Linked DNA regions of Homo sapiens: region 2 is linked to region 1. Evidence: fine-mapped expression QTL. A gene starts in region 1. The other region holds a variant in brackets. All regions are shown on one strand. Distances are from middle to middle.

The links. PIP is the estimated chance that this variant, and not a neighbour inherited with it, causes the effect.
Region 2: its variant is fine-mapped to the expression of INCA1 in prefrontal cortex (GTEx, PIP 0.93).

The regions. Positions count from the first base shown.
Region 1 is chr17:4,994,167-5,002,166 of GRCh38, reverse strand. INCA1 (inhibitor of CDK, cyclin A1 interacting protein 1) reads left to right here and starts at 4,645. Exons shown (of 7, transcript NM_001394789.1): 1 at 4,645-4,671; 2 at 7,692-7,773. The coding sequence starts at 7,730. It overlaps KIF1C (kinesin family member 1C), which reads right to left and starts at 4,217. Exons shown (of 23, transcript NM_006612.6): 1 at 4,011-4,217; 2 at 2,197-2,317; 3 at 1,815-1,947; 4 at 1,319-1,395; 5 at 766-945; 6 at 43-108. The coding sequence starts at 1,920. RefSeq lists enhancers at 1,290-1,900, 1,901-2,512 and silencers at 3,755-3,854, 3,905-4,774, 4,815-4,904.
Region 2 is chr17:4,915,724-4,924,239 of GRCh38, reverse strand. No RefSeq gene overlaps it. Among named protein-coding and RNA genes, the nearest start is that of GP1BA, 12 kb to the left of the region's middle. The variant C/A (reference allele first, on the strand shown) is at 3,836.

The DNA of each region.
Region 1 (8,000 bases):
GTCTGGACCCCTCTCAGCCCTGCCACCAAGACCCGGGCTTACCTCCACAGAGTAGGATAGCTGAGCACTCTGGTTCTCACTAACGCGAGAGAAGAGGTCCTCACAGAGCTGGAGGGGGACACAGGGAAATACAGAGAAGCTCCTGTTCAGGGCACACCTAAAGTGTCCAGCCACAGGCCAGGCCCAGTCCCAAGTGACCCCATTTAACCCTTGCTACAGCCTTGAGGGAGGGGTTATTCCCATTTCACAGATGGGAAAACAACCTCAGAGAGGTCCCCACTTGCCCAAGATCACAGGCTACCGTTCAGCCAGCCAGGGTGCAAACCCCAGGAGTTCTGACTCCCAAGCCCGTGTGCCAGGTTGCTATGCTGGACAGCCAGGGACAATTATGGTTAACTCCGTTATCCCAATTGGCGTTTCTACAGTTAACACTCTGCTGGTGGTACACAAGCCTGCAGGAGAACTATACTCACAAATTATTATGAAACCAAGTAAAACAGTAGTAAGTCGTAAAACTGGCGCTCGAACCCAAGGCTCACTGATGCCAAAGCCCTGCTCTACTCACTGAGGCTCGTTGCCTCTGATAGGGGCGAAGACCCTCCCACCCCAGAGGGTTGTCCAGCTTGCAGTCAACCTCTATCTCCCATCACCAATGGCCTCAGAGCCAGGTCTCTGTTCCATAATCCTCCGACCCTAGTCCTTCCTTCCTCAGAGGGCAGCTAAAGATGCTCCTGCCCTGGCTGCCCCACCAGGTCCTAGGCGTACCTGGGGCACGATGCCCTGCTGCCCTGGCTCCTGTCGCCCCATCATGGTATAGGATTTCCCAGCCCCGGTCTGCCCATAGGCAAAGATGCACACGTTGTAGCCTTCAAAGGCGTGGAGCAGCATCTCTTCTCCAATGTCCCGATACACTTGCTGCTGAGATGCAAACTGGGGGTCCTCCGTCTAGGAGAAAGTGGGGGCAGAGAAAAACAGAGTAACCCTGGATGTCTTTATCCTTTGTGTCTCTGTCCCAAGAGTCTTGCTTCCATCACTGACGATTCCCCAAATGTCCTGTGTGCCCTCCCACCCTCATCATTGTCCTTACCACCCCAAGGATCCTATCCAGCCCCTGCTAGTCCTAATTACCCCAAGGGATTCCGCCTTCCTGTCGAGGCCTCAATCACAGCCTAAGGGTCCTACCACCCCCACCCAGGATCATCCTCCCAATTCACCCTGACTAATCCCCTGGGGGTCCTATTTCTTAACATGTCCCCTCCCCAGGACCTAAATCCTCTGTCTCTCACTGCCTTGCTCTTCCCCCAGCCCAACAACCCACCGAAGTGTGTGACCAGTAGGAGTAGTCAAAGGTGAAGCTTTTGGGGGCATCCTTGCTCTGTTTAGGATTGATGATGGCTGAGGGGCAGGAGAGGGTAAAGGAAGGAAAGTCAAGGTCAGGTATTCCCAGTCCCTGCCCATACCCCAACCAGCCCCTGGAATCCAAGCATCCCACTCCTCACCACTGTCCTGACTCTTCTCTCCCCTTTAACATTCCCCACCCCCTCCAGCCACCAAAGCTAATTTTGGCTTCCTAGGACCCGCCCCCACTGAGCTGCCTCCCTGGATTGGGCAATGGAGGGCTCCAGGCCAACATTCCCCCTCCCAGGGACTGGGAACACGGGAAAGGCCAGCCTGCCCCAGCCCCCGCCCTTACGACTAGCACCTGCTCTGTGCCCAGCATTACCCTCCTCTTAGTTTGGCCCAGCGGGACTGGCCTGTGTGGTGGGCCCGGCCTTCCCTGCCTGTGCCCAGCCAGGCCCCGGGGACTCACTCACAGGTGGTGTTGCCCTGCATGCTGACCACACACTTGGCATCCTGGCTGGTCTCACGGGCGTTAAAGGGCCGAACCCTCACTGCCACTTTCACCGAGGCACCAGCCATAGCTCCAGACACTCCTGCCCTCCTCAGCTGGAGGACAGAGAAAGGAGTGGTGGGGTCAGAACCACTGCAGGGACCCAGACATTGCCTCCCAGCTTCTTCCCGGAACCAGTCTCTTCACATCTCCCCCAGAGCCACCCAGCCTCTCAAGGACCCAGCTCTTATTCCCTTGGCTTTCCTCCCAAATGTCACTGTCTTGAGAGACTCCCAAAGGTATTTCTGCCTCTCTCCCCAGCCATATTCCAGCTTGCAGGAACCTGGGCGGTCTCCCCCAGTTACCTGGCGTCCTGGCCCCAGACCAGGGGGGCTGTATCAGTTCTGGCTGCCACCGGCCCTCGTAGGGGGAGCCCCATCCTACTCCTGGGGCCTGGCCACACCAGCTGGGGCTCTGGGAGATACCCTGATTGCGGGGGAAGAGTTGTTAGAAGGCACCTGTGGTTCCAGAGACCCGTCTGGGGTTCCCAGGTTGGAGGGCCAAGGTTACGGGGGGAATAGCAGGAAAAGTACGGACAGCTGCCCCTCTAGAGTGGCTGAATGCAATGTGAATCCAAGGGCAGGGACGGTGATATTTTTATTCCTTGTCACTCGCAAATGTACTGAACGTTCAGATAGAGGACAGAGAGAGAAAGAGGCTGGACAGAGGGCAATTCAGAGAGAGGGGCACATGGGCAGAGACGTGAGGGGGGTGGGAAGAGAGAGAGGAGGGGCAGAGAGTCACAGACACCAAGAAAATTAGAGAAATAAGACAAAAGGCAAGCCTGAGGTCATGCTATGAAGGAAAGAATGGGAGAGGAAAGGAGGAAGAGACACAGCACAGCAAACACACGGTGTTAAAGAGACAGGGTGGGGAACTCCGGCGCCAAAGCACAAACTGGGAGCCCAGAAGAGAGACCAGAGAGGAAACTGCAAATGCAAAACCTGTCCTCAAATTCCCCCACAGTGTCGGCAAGGGAGAATCTAGTTTCCACCTGAGGCCCACAACCTCCATGCACCAGGCCAGTAGTGCAGATGGGCAAAGTCCAAGGACTGTAGGTAGGGCCCAGGACTGGGATCCACAGGGCCAGCTGTGTGGGCTCTAAGCCCCTTGCCCAGCCCCCAGCACTTCCTCCTCAGGATCCGGGACAATGAGCAGGGGAGGGTGGGGTCATCCTGTAGCCATCAGACCAACCCTCAGGGCTCCACCCTTGGGGCGCCCAGAAATACCTGTGTTTGAGGGTAGAGGGTCCCTGGGGCCTCCCTAAAAGGGAGAAAGAAAAGGAAGCCGGCTGGCTGGTGCCAGCCCCAACCTGGGGCTAGTGCTATGGCGTCCACTGCCCTGGGGAAGGTGCCAGGCTGGAGCCCAGGAATGTGGGTGATCGGGTGCCCACACCCTGGGAGGAGAGGCTGAGCAGCCCACGCCCACGGACAACAGGGAGGAGGACCACGAAGGATAAGGGATGCGGAGCCCCCTCCTGTGGCCCCAGTGGACCCCAAACTCCTGTCACGCTGGGCCTCCCCTCACCAGTCTTCCTGGGCAGAGCATGGGAGGGTGAGGGGCTGGTCTGTCCCAGGACAGGAAGGGAGTAGCTGGAATCACAGAAGCTGGCTCAGGAAGAACAGCCCTGACCCCCTAGACCCTGACCAGGGGAGGGAAGGACACTGGTGGGGACAAGCGATGGTGACGCCGTTGCTGCAGCTAATGGGACAGGGATGGGGTGGCACGGCTGGGGGCCAGCGGGGTAAGGGAATAGAGGTAGGGACAGGGGTCGGCCGGTGCAGCTGTGAAGGAGCCGTGGGGTACAAGGAGGATACTGGGCGGCTGGGGTGGGGCCGACCGGCCCGAAAGGGGGTCTTGGGCCACCTGCACCTTGCCCACCCGGCGGTTCTCACACAGGTCCCCGCCCGGCCTCTCAGGGCGGCCATGCGGACCCGTCCTCCTGTCCAGCCAGCCGGCGGCCGCCCGGGCCTGGCACCTCTCTGCGCCTCCGCGGAACAAACAGCACATGATCCCGACTCTTGAGCCTAGATCGCGCCGCCGGACCCCGGCTCCCCGCCCCCCAACCCGGCACATTCCTCCGCGGGCGTCCCTTCCCTCCCCCTTCCCCAGCCCTCACCTCGGCGCGGCGGGGCTCCCGGAGCAGCTCGGCGGAGAGGGACAAGCTTTCCGGGAAGCGTGAGGCGGAAGCGGGAAGGATCTGGGGCCGGTTCGGAGCTGCCCCCGCCCCTCGCCGGGTGCCCGGGCGGCGGGCGGCGGACTCGCGCCCCGGGGGCGGCAGCAGTAGCGGCGCCAGCGGCCGGCGCCCGCCCGGGCAGCGCGAGCTGGGGCGGGAGCGAGGGGCGGGGGACGCGCGAGCGCGCGCGGAGGGGCGGGTACGCGCGGTCCCGGGAAGGAGCCGGGAGCGACCCGGGCTACTCTTGTTAAAGGGGCAACGCTCCTGGCCTGTGGGGCCCAGCGAGCGGGAACGTGGGGACCGAGCTGCGGACGCAGAAGGGCGAGCAGACGCCGCAACCCAGGAGGGTTGCAGACGCCTGAAGAACAGGGAAACGTCGGGGGCTGACCCGCGGGGGCACCCAGGCCCCGGCCCAGTTCCCGTCGCCGCCGTTGGAGGCGCGTCCAGGGGGCGGAGCCTCCTGCCGAGGCCCGCCCAGAAGGTGGCTCCGCTCAGGCCCCGCCCTCAGACGAGCACCGCCCGCCGGCTCCTCCCGCGGCTCGAATCGCCGTCTCTCTCCTCCCCGCCCCGCCGAGTTCTAGAATTCGCCGCGCAGCTGCTTCAGGTGCTGGGGCCAAATGCGGCCGGCCGTGGCGCGGCTACTCGGGCGCTCTGTCCCCGCCTGGCCCTCAAGTTCGGCCGCCCTGGACGCCGCCTGAGGCCCAAACAACCCCTTCAGGCCCGGGTGCCGCCTAAGGCCGGAGCTGCCCTCTCAGACCCGGGGCGTCCCTCAGGCCCCAGCCTGCCCTTCAGCCTGGGCCCACCACCTCAGGGCCCCTCTCGAGGGAAGCAGCCCCCAGTCGTGCCCTCGGGCGGGGCTGCCCGGAAGGTCCGGCCACGCCCGGTCCACCTGTCGAGGGTCCCCGTCGCCCTTTCAGGCGCAGGCCGCGCCCTCCGGCCCGGCGCTTCCCTCCAGCGGGGCTCCAGGCAGCCCCTCAGCCCCAGCCGGACCCTCGGGTCCTCATCCACCCTCGCAGGCGCAGGCCGTGGCTACCCCGAAGTCAACTGTGGAGGATCCTTCCTGGCTTCCTTCAGCTCCATCCTGCCCTTGGATCTAGGTCACCCGCTTGGACCCAACTATCTGAGGCCCGAATGCCCCGCAGCTCCCGCTGCTCCCTCGCGTTCTGCTGACCCCCCTCCGAGTCAGGACATCCCCTTTAGACCCCACTTTAGGCCCTTTCAGCCCAACTCCAACTAGCCCCATCTGCCGCTTCCGCACGGTATACTTCTCTCCGCTTTTGACCTCACCTGCTTTCCCAGCCCATCCCTAGTTCCCTTGGATAAATACTAGTTCACCTCTACAGTTCCAGCTGGCTGCTTCTGTCCTTCGGGAGCCTATGTGCACTCTCTCCTAACTTATCTAGTATTCTTTTTTTTTTTTTTTTTTTTTTTTTGAGACGGAGTCTTGCTCTGTTGCCCAGGCTGACCTCGGCTCACGGCAACCTCCGCCTCCTGGGTTCAAGCGATTCTCCTGCCTCAGCCTCCCGAATAGCTGGGATTACAGATGCCTGCCACCACACCCGGCTAATTTTTGTATTTTTAGTAGAGACTGGGTTTCGCTGTGTTGGCCAGGCTGGTCTCGAACTCCTGACCTCAAGTGATCCGCCCACCTCAGCCTCCCAAAGTGCTGGGATTACAGTCTTGAGCCACCGCGCCTGGCTTTTTTTTTTTTCTTCTTAGAAACAGGGTCTCACTCTGACGCCTAGGCTGGAGTGCAGTGCAGTGGTGCGATCTTACCTCACTGCAGCCTTGACCTCCCGGGCTCAGATGACACTCCCACCTCAGCCTTCCGGGTACAAGCGCACACCACCACACCTGGCTAAACTTTTTCGTATTTTGGTAAAGAGGGGGTTTCGCCATGTTGCCCAGGCTGGTCTCAAACTCCTGGGCTCGAGCAATCCACCCACTTCCGCCTCCCAAATTGCTGGGATTACAGGCGTGAGCCAGTGTGCCCAGCCTTAACTGCCCTTTCTCCCCACCCCAACTGGCCTTCAGGTCATCTTTGGCTGTCCCTATATGCAACTGACCTCCCTATCCACAGGCATTCCCAACTGCCCCCTCCTTCCCTGTCACCAGTTGACCATTATGTCCACACTTAACTTTTTTTAATTTCTTTTTTTATTTTGTTAGAGACAGAGTTTCACTCTTGTTGCACAGACTGGAGTGCAATGGCGCGATCTCAACTCACCGCAACCTCTGCCTCCCTGGTTCAAGCAATTCTCCTGCCTCAGCCTCCTGAGTAGCTGGGATTACAGGCATGTGCCACCATGCCCGGCTAATTTTTGTATTTTTTAGTAGAGACAGGGTTTCTCCATGTTGGTCAGACTGGTCTCGAACTCCCGACCTCAGGTGATCCACCCGCCTCAGCCTCCCAAAGTGCTGGGATTACAGGCGTGAGCCACCACACCCAGCCAACTTTTTTTTTTTAAATAGAGATGACGTCTCTCTGTATTGCCCAGGCTGGTCTCCAACTCCTGAGCTCAGGCAATTCTCTTGCCCCAGCCCCGCAAAGTGCTGGGATTACAGGTGTGAGCCACTGCACCCGGCCCACACAATTAACTTTCACTAACCACTCATAGTTGATTCATTGAGAACCCTCAATTCTGTCACTTCTCTTACCCCCAAATGCCTCCACCCCACCCAGTCTCCACTGTCATCATTTTTCAATTTCATTGTCCCATATTGCCAGTTGTCGCTTAACTGCCATCTGTAAATTTCACTTATTCTGCACATTTAGCTTCAGAAGATTTGCTTTCTCCTTTATCTTTTTACCACATCCACTTTTCCTGTGCTCACTATCTTCAACCTAAATGTTCAATTAACAGTCCAGCACTACAAATACCTTTTTTTTTTTTTTGAGACAGAGTCTTGCTCTGTTGCCAGTCTGGAGTGCAGTGGTGCAATTTCAGCTCACTGCAACTTCCTACTCCCTGGTTCAAGTGATTCTTCTGCCTCAGCCTCCGGAGTAGCTGGGATTACAGGCATGCGCCACCATGCCCAGCTAATTTTGTATTTTTAGTAGAGACGGGGTTTCTCCATGTTGGTCAGACTGGTCTCGAACTCCCAACCTCAGGTGATCTGCCTGCCTCGGCCTCCCAAAGGGCTGGGATTACAGGCATAAGCCACTGCGCCCAGCCGCTACAAATACCTTTTAAGCTCTCTCTTTTTTCAGCATCCATACATTCTTTTTCCATTCTCTAGATCTGCTACTGGCCTCATCCCTACAGACATTATATGAATGAATGCCTTTTTTTTTTTTTTTTTTTTTTTTGAGACAGAGTCTTGCTCTGTCCCCCAGGCTGGAGTGCAGTGGCGCGATCTCGGCTCACTGCAACCTCCGCCTCCCAGGTTCAAGCGATTCTTCTGCCTCAGCTTTCTGGGTAGCTGGGACTATAGGCGCGCGCCACCACACCCGACTAATGTTTGTATTTTTAGCAGAGATGGGGTTTCACTATATTGGCCAGGCTGGTCTTGAACTCCTGACCTCATGATCCGCCCGCCTTGGCCTCCAAAAGTACTGGGATTACAGGCGTGAGCCACCACATCCAGCCCGAATGAATGACTTCTTTTCCATTATCCTCCCAGCACCAAAAAGGAGACTAACTACCCAGCCCCGTCCAGTCATGCAGGTGCAGGATGATGGAGTCAACCTCATCCCCTTTGCCAAGTGAGTCCTCCCACTGGGTGGGGAGCATGGGGATGGGATGGAGGGGATATTGCATGCCTGGGTCCTTCCCTAAGAGGATTAGGAAATAAAGAACGGGAAATGCAATGCCTGGTCTCAGGGGATTGATGATTCATTAATTTATTCAACAAATAGTTTGAACACTACAATGTTCCAGGGACTGTATTAGGCACTGGGGATTCAGCAACTAGCAGGATAGGGGTCCTGCT
Region 2 (8,516 bases), 78 kb after region 1:
CGAGGCGGGCAGATCACTTGAGGTCAGGAGTTTGAGACCAGCCTGGCCAACATAGTTAAACCCTGTCTCTACTAAAAATACAAAAATTAGCTGGGCGTGGTGGCAGGCGCCTGTAATCCCAGCTACTCGGGAGGCTGAGGCAGGAGAGTCATTTGAACCCAGGAGGTGGAGGTTGCAGTGAGCTGAGATTGTGCCACTACACTGCAGCCCGGGTGACAGAGTGAGACTCCATCTCAAAAAAAAAAAAAAGTAATTAATTAAAGAAAATGTGATACACACACAAACACACACCATGAAATGCTATGCAGCCACTAAAAATAATGAAATCATGTCCTTTGCAGCAGCATGAATGGAGCTGGAGGCCATTATCCTAAGTGAACTAACTCAGAAACAGAAAACCAAACACTACATGTTCTCACCTATAAGTGGGAACTAAACAATGGTTACACATGGACATAAAGATGGAAATAATAGACATTAGGGGCTTTGAAAGAGGGGAGCTTGGGAGGGAAATGAGCATTGGACAATTACCTAATGGGGCCAGGCACGGTGGCTCACGCCTGTAATCCCAGGAGGCCGAAGCGGATGGATCACCTGAGGTCAGGAGTTCGAGACCAGCGGGGCCAACATGGCGAAACCCCGTCTCTACTAAAAATACAAAAATTAGCCAGGCTTGGTGGTGGGCACCTGTAATCCCAGCTACTCGGGAGGCTGAGGAAGGAGAATCGCTTGAACCCAGGAGGCAGAGGTTCTGGTGAGCCGAAATCGGGCCACTACATTCCAGATTGGGCGATAGAGCAAGATTCCGTCTCAAAAAAAAAAAAAAAAAAAATTACCTAATGGGTCCAGTGTTGACTGTTTGGGTGATGGGTACACTAGAAGCCCAGTCCTCACCAGGATGCAATATATTCATCTAACAAATATGTACATGTACCCCCTGAACCAAAACTAAAATAAACATTTCAGAAAAGAGCTTGGGGATGGTGGCTCATGCTTGTAATCCCTGCACTTTGGGAGGCCAAAGCTCGAAGATTGCTTAAATTTAGGAGTTTGAGACTGGCCTGGGTAACACAGTGAGGCCTCATCTCTACCAAAAACAAAAACGAAAACATTAGCTGGACTTGGTGGTGTACTTTTTTTTTTTTTTTTTTTTTTGAGACGGAGTCTTGCTCTGTCGCCCAGGCTGGAGTGCAATGGCGCGATCTTGGCTCACTGCAAGCTCCACCTCCTGGGTTCACGCCATTCTCCTGCCTCAGCCTCCCGAGTAGCTGGGACTACAGGCGCCCGCCACCACGCCCAGCTAATTTTTTTGTTTTGTTTTTAGTAGAGATGGGGTTTCACCATATTAGCCAGGATGGTCTCGATTTCCTGACCTCGTGATCTGCCCACCTCGGCCTCCCAAAGTGCTGGGATTACAGGCGTGAGCCACCGCACCCAGCCTGGTGGTGTACTCTTGTAGTCTCAGCTACTGAGGCAGGAGGATCGCTTTAGCCCAGGAGGCCAGGGCTGCAGTGAAACATGATCATGTCACTGCACTCCAGTCTGGACGACAGAGCCAGACCCTGTCTCCCTGTCTCAAAAAAAAAAAAAAAAAAAATTAGTCGGACATGGTGGCAGGCACCTGTAATCCCATCTACTCCAGAGGCTGAGGCAGGAGAATTGCTTGAACCAGGGAGGTGGAGGGTGCAGTTAGCCGAGATCATGCCATTGCACCCCAGCCTTGGTGGCAAAAGTGAAACTCTGTCTCAAAAAAAAAAAAAAAAGAAAAGAAAGAAAAAAATTATTTATTTTTTTGAGGAGAATTCAGGGAAGAAATGAGTTGGGTTTGTTTGTTTTGTTTTTCTATTTTATTTATTTATTTTTTGAGACAGAGTCTCACTCTGTCGCTTAGACTGGAGTGCAATGGCACAATCTCGGCTCACTGCAACCTCCGCCTCCCGGGTTGAAGCAATTTTCCTGCCTCAGCCTCCTGAGTAGCTGGGATTACAGACATGCGCCACCACACCCGGCTAATTTTGTATTTTTAGTAGAGACGGGGTTTCTCCATGTTGGTCAGGCTGGTCTCGAACTCCCGACTTCAGGTGATCCGCCTGCCTCGGCCTCCCAAAGTGCTGGGATTACAGGAGTGAGCCACTGCACCGGCCCTGAATTTTTAGTAGAGACAGGGTTTCACCGGGTAGGCCAGGCTGGTCTTTGAACTCCTGACCTCAAATGATCCACCCGCCTCGGCTTCCCAAAGTGCTGGGATTACAAGTGTGAGCCACCACACCTGGCTCCGTGTAGTTTTTTTTTTTTTTTTTTTTTTTTGAGACAGAGTCTTGCTTTCTCACCCAGGTTGGAATGCAGTGGTGTGATCACAGCTCACTGCAGCCTCCGCCTCCTGGGCTCAAGTGATCCAAACACCTCAGCCTCCCAAGTAGCTGGGACTACAGGTGTGCACCACTACACCTGGGTAATTTTTGTATTTTTGGTAGAGATTGGGTTTCCTCATGTTGGCCAGGCTAGTCTTGAACTCCTGACCTCAAGTGATCCGCCTGCCTCCCCAAGTGCTGGGATTACAGGCGTGAGCCACTGCGACTGGCCTAGACTAGTGTTTGACCAAACAACTGACTACTACTATTAGTCTGGCCAAGTTGACACATAAAATTATCCATCACATCATACCTTGGATGTTTATTGTAAACTGCAATACATTTTAAAGTTTACAATAGGCCAGGTATGGTGGGAGGACGGCTTGAGCCCAGGAATCCCAGACCAGCCTGGGCAACAGAGCAAGATCCCACCTCTAAAAAAAAAAAAGAAAGAAAAAAAGTTTATATTAAAAAAAAATCCATCTGAGAGACTTCTGCTTATGGGAAGATGGAGTACACTTTCTTTTACCTATTCCACCTGCTAAATACAACAAAACCCTGGATATTATACATAAAACACAAAAGCTAAACACGGTGGCAGGTTCCTGTAATCTCAGCTATTCAGGAGGCTGAGGCAGGAGAATCGATTGAACCTGGGAGGTAGAGGTTGCAGTGAGCTGAGATTGCACCACTGTTCTCCAGCCAGGGCAACAGAGCAAGAGTCTGTCTCAAAAAACAGAAAAGAAAAGAAAACAAAAATGAAAAATGAAAAAACAACCCACTATTCTAGATGTTGCTGTGAAGGTATTTTCAGATGTGATTAACCTTTAAATCAGTATGCTTGGAGTAAAGCAGATTATCTTTCATAATGTGGGTGGGCCTCATCCAACCAGTTGAATGGCTTAGGAGGAAAGGCTGAGGTTCCCTTGAGAAGGAAGGAATTCTGCCTCCAGACTGACTACCTCTGGACCCAGGATTACGTAAACTGTTCCCTTGGTCTCTAGCTTGCTGACTCCCTAGTCAAGGTTTTGGACTTGCTAGCGCACATAATCATGAATCATGTCAGCCAATTCCTTAAAATAAATATTTGTCGTGTGTTTGTGTGTGTTTGTGTGTGTATGTATACATCCTATTGGTTGTATTGGGTCTCACTCTGTTGCCCAGGGTGGAGTGTAGTGGCGTGATCATGGTTCACTGCAACCTCCTGGGCTCAAGCCATCCTCCTGCCTCAGCCACCCGGGTAGCTGGGACTACAGGCGCGTGCTACCATGTCTGGTTATGGTTCTGTTTTTGTAGAGTGCCCTGACTAGTACCCATGATTTTCACTTTCTGGAATTTTTTTTTTTTTGAGACAGGATCTGTCTCTGTCACCCAGGCTAGAGTGCAGTGGTGCAATCACGGCTCACTACAACCTCCGCCTACCAGGCTTGAGCAATCCTCCCACCTCAGCCTGCCCAGTAGCTGGGACTGCAGGCACATACCAC[C/A]ACACCAAGCTGATTTTTGTATTTTTAGTGGAAATGGGGTTTCGCCATATTGCCCAGGCTGGTCTGGAACACTCTTGCCTTGGCCTCTCAAAATGCTGGGATTACATTAGCGAGCCACCAAGCCCGGCCTCTGGAATTTGTTATTCTCTTTATGTTCTATGTGCATTTTAAAATAATATGTATTCCCTGTTGAGATAATATATACTCTCAAATCCTGTATACTTTTTCTTATTTTTTGTGTACTTGATCTGTCCATTTCTGGGCGAGGTATGTTAAAATCAAGCACCCCAATTGTGGATTGTTCACTTTATTCTTTATTTCCATACAATTTTACTTTATTTTAAAGCTATGTTTTTAGATAGACAAATGCCTATGACTATTAGCTAGTCAACTTGCTGGCTGCTGTAACATATTACCACAAATCGAGTGGCTTGCGAAAATAAAATGTATCCTCTCACAGTTCTGGAGGCCAGAAGTCTGAAATCGAGGTGTCCCCATGGCCACACTTCCCCCGGAGGCTCTAGGAGAGAATGCTCCCCTGCCTTTTCCAGTGTCTGGCAGCTGCCAGCATTCCAACGCTTTCCTTGCTTTTGGAGCTTTATCATTCTAATCTCTGCTAGTGTCTTTATATCACTTTCGCTTCTGTGTGTCTGTGTCTTCTCCTCTCCTGTCTCTTATAAGGACACTTGTCATTGATTTTCGGGCCCTCTTGGATAATCTAGAATCATCTCCTTATCTCAGGTCCTTAATTCATTTACATCTCAAAGTTCCTTTTTCCAAATAAGGTAACATTCACAGATGTCAGGGATTAGGATATGGATGTATCTTTTGAGGGGGGCCATCATTCAGCCCGCTACAACCATGATAGCTTCTTGGTATATTATACCTTTTATAAAGATGAAATATCCCCCTTGGTCCCTTTTAATGCTTTCTGTTTTGAATTCTTTTGTTTGGCATTAATATTGCTATATTTGTTTTCTTTATATTAGTATTTTTATGCCATAATTTATTCTCTTATTTTCCAGATTTTTTTTTTTTTTTTTTTTTTTGAGACGGAGTTTCACTCTTGTTACCCAGGCTGGAGTGCAATGGCACGATCTCGGCTCACCACAACCTCTGCCTCCCGGGGTTCAGGTGATTCTCCTGCTTCAGCCTCCTGAGTAGCTGGGATTACAGGTGCCCGGCTAATTTTTTGGTATTTTTAGTAGAGATGGGGTTTCACCATGATGGCCAGGATGGTCGCGAATTCCTAACCTCAGGTGATCCACCTGCCTGGGCCTCCCAAAGTGCTGGGATTACAGGCATGAGCCACCATGCCTGGAATTTTCCAGCTTTTTACCAACTTGTTTTTGTTGTCTCTTGCAAACAGCATGTAGCAGAATTATTTTATTTATTTATTTATTTATTTATTTATTTATTTTTGAGACAGAGTCTCGCTCTTTGCCCAGGCTGGTGTGCAGTGGTGCAATCTCAGCTCACTGCAACCTCCTCCTCCCAGGTTCAAGCGATTCTCCTGCCTCAGCCTCCCGAGTAGCTGGGACTACAGGTGTGTGCCACCATGCCTGGGTAATTTTTGTATTTTTAGTAGAGATAGGGTTTCACCATGTTGGCCAAGCTGCCCCTGAACTCCTGACCTCAGGTGATCCACCCTCCTCGGCCTCTTAAAGTGCTGGGATTACAAGTGTAAGCCACCATGCCCAGCTAGCAATCATTGATTTTTAACATAACATTTAAATGTAACTTTCTATCAAAATCTAGAATTAATAACTATTGATTGCCCCCAAAACAAGACAAGGTTCTTAGAATGTGTTTCGTTTTCTATCCCTACCCCTTCATCTTTCATGAGATATCACCGAGAATTTAAATTATAGATTACTACTTCCATTGTATTTTATGTATTTGTTTACTTATTTATTTATTTTTTGAGACAGGGTCTCGTTCTGTCACCCAGGCTGGAGTGCAGTGGTGCGATCATAGTTCACTGCAACCTCTAACTCCTGGGATCAAGCAATCCTCCCAACTCAGCTTCCTAAGTATCTGGGACTAGAGGTGCCCACCACCACATCCAGCTAATTTAAAAATTTTTAGGCCAGGCAGGGTGGCTTACGCCTGTAATCCCAGCACATTGGGAGGCTAAAGCAGGCAGATCACGGGAGGTCAGGAGTTCGAGACCAGCGTGACAAACATGGTGAAACCCCATCTCTACTAAAAATACAAAAATTAGCCAGGTGTGGTGGCAGGCGCCTGTAATCCCAGCTACTGGGGAGGCTGAGGCAGGAGAATCGCTTGAACCCAGAAGGCGGAGGTTGCAGTGAGCCGAGATCGTGCCATTGCACTCTAGCCTGGGTGACAAGAGCGAGACTCCATCTCAGAAAAAAAAAAAATTTTAGTAGAGATGAGGTCTCACTAGGTTATCCAGGCAGATCTTAAACTCCTGGGCTTGATTCTCCCACAACTGCTTCCATTTTAAAACATCAGTTAGAGCTTTCTTAGACTTACCAATGCATTAGCTGCTTTCCTTGCTTACTGTTGCTTTGTGAGTCTCATGTCTTCTGGGATTCTGGGATGACATCTGTCACTCCTTTCAGCTGCTCAGCACCCGAAGGCCTTTTCCTATGCTCCAGACCTCCCACATCATGAGCAAGACCCTGCCTCTCACTAGCAAATGGGAAAGCACCAGACCCTTGGTTCCTTTGCAGCCAGACCCCAGGCATCTCTCTGGGGCTTCTCCAGGCAGGCTTTCCTGTTTGCCTGAAGGGCCACACCAAATCTGAACAGGGCACCAGGAGGCAATTCCACTTGGTCTCTACCTGCAGGATGGGCCTACTTCTAAGAGCAGCAACCATTTAATACGATATTTTTTTCCCCAGTGTCCTAAACACTTTTGAGTTAACATTAGTTGCCTAGGCTGGAGTGCAATGGTGTGATCTTGGCTCGCTGCAACCTCAGCTTCTTGGGTTCAAGCGATTCTCCTGTCTCAGCCTCCCCAGTAACTGGCGCGCCCAACCATGCCCAGCTAATTTTTTTGTGTTTTACTAGAGACGGGGTTTCACTACGTTGGCGAGGCTGGTCTCAAACTCCTAACCTCAAGTGATCCACCCACCTCAGCTTCTAGAAATGCTGGGATTACAGGTGTGAGCCACTGCACCCGGCCAGACATTATATTTCTAAGACATATTCATATTGATGTACCCACAGCTATAATTCATTCATTCGCAATGCTTTATTGTATTTAATGAGTAAAAGGCAGTTTTCCTTTCTGCTGTTTATGATCATTTGCCTTGTTTCCACTTTTTTCCCCCATTATAAATAATAGCCAGGCTCAGTGGCTCATAGATGTAATCCCAGCACTTTGGGGGCTGAGACAGGATTGCTTGACTGCAGAGGCTTGAGACCAGCCTGGGCAACATAGTAAGACCTCATCTCTGCTAAAAATGAAAACAAAAATAAATCAGCCAGGTATGGTAGCAGGTGCCTGTGGTCCCACCTACTCGGGAGGCTGAGGTGGGAGGATCACTTGAGCCCGGGAGGCGGAGGTTGCAGTGAGCTGAGATTGCACCACTGCAGTCCAGTCTGGGTGACAGAGCAAGACAACTGCCTCAAAATAAATAAATAATAAAATAAAATAAAATAATGAATTAATAAATTAAAATAAGAAACTGGGGGGCGATGTGAGTCCCAGACATTAGCATTTTTGCTAAGATTTTATTTTTATATAATTTAAAACTTACAGAAAAAAATACCAGAATAGTACAAAGAACTGCATGCCCTCTTCCCAGATTCACCATGTGTTAACATTTTGTCTCATTTGCTTGATCATATTGTCTTTCTCCCTCTTGAGTGTTTTTTTCTGGAACCATTTGAGAACAAGCTGAAGACATTATGTTTCTTTACCACTAAATATTTCAGTATGTGTTTCCTAAAACAAAGACATTTCCTTATATACTACAGTGCAGTTATTAATTTTAGGAAATATAACATTGATACAATACTCACATCCAATCTACAGTCCATAATCCCATTTAGCCAATTGTCCTAAAATGTCCTTGACGGTTGTTGTTTTTTGCTTTTTTTCTTTCCTGTCCAGAATCCAATCCAGGGCCATATCACTTTAATTTGCTTTAGTTCCTTAACCTGTCTTTATTTTTCATAAATTTGACATTTTTGAAAATTATAGTCCAGTAATTATGTAGAGTTTCCCTCAATTTGTCAGATGTTTCCACAAGGTTGTATTTGGGTTATGTTTTTCTGGCAGGAATATTACACCAGCGATCTTTCTTGGTGGGTCCTATCAGGAAACACATTATATCAATTTCACCCTTAATGGGGATGTTAACTTTGATCCTTTGGTTAAGGTGGCATCCGCCATGTTTCTCCACTGTGGAGATTCTGTTTTTTTACTTTGTAACTAAGGAGCACTTTCGTGGAGAGATACTTTGATACTATGTAAATATCTTGTTCCTTCTCAATCTCTGGCCTATATCCTGCAGCATCCACTGATAATTTTTTTTTTTTTTGAGACAGAGTTTCACTCTTGTTGCCTAGGCTGGAGTGCAATGGCGTGATCGTTGATCGTGGCTCACCACAACCTCTGCCTCCCTGGTCCCGGTTCAAGCAGTTCTCCTGCCTCAGCCTACTGAGTAGCTGGAATTACAGGCACGCGCCACCACATCCAGCTAAT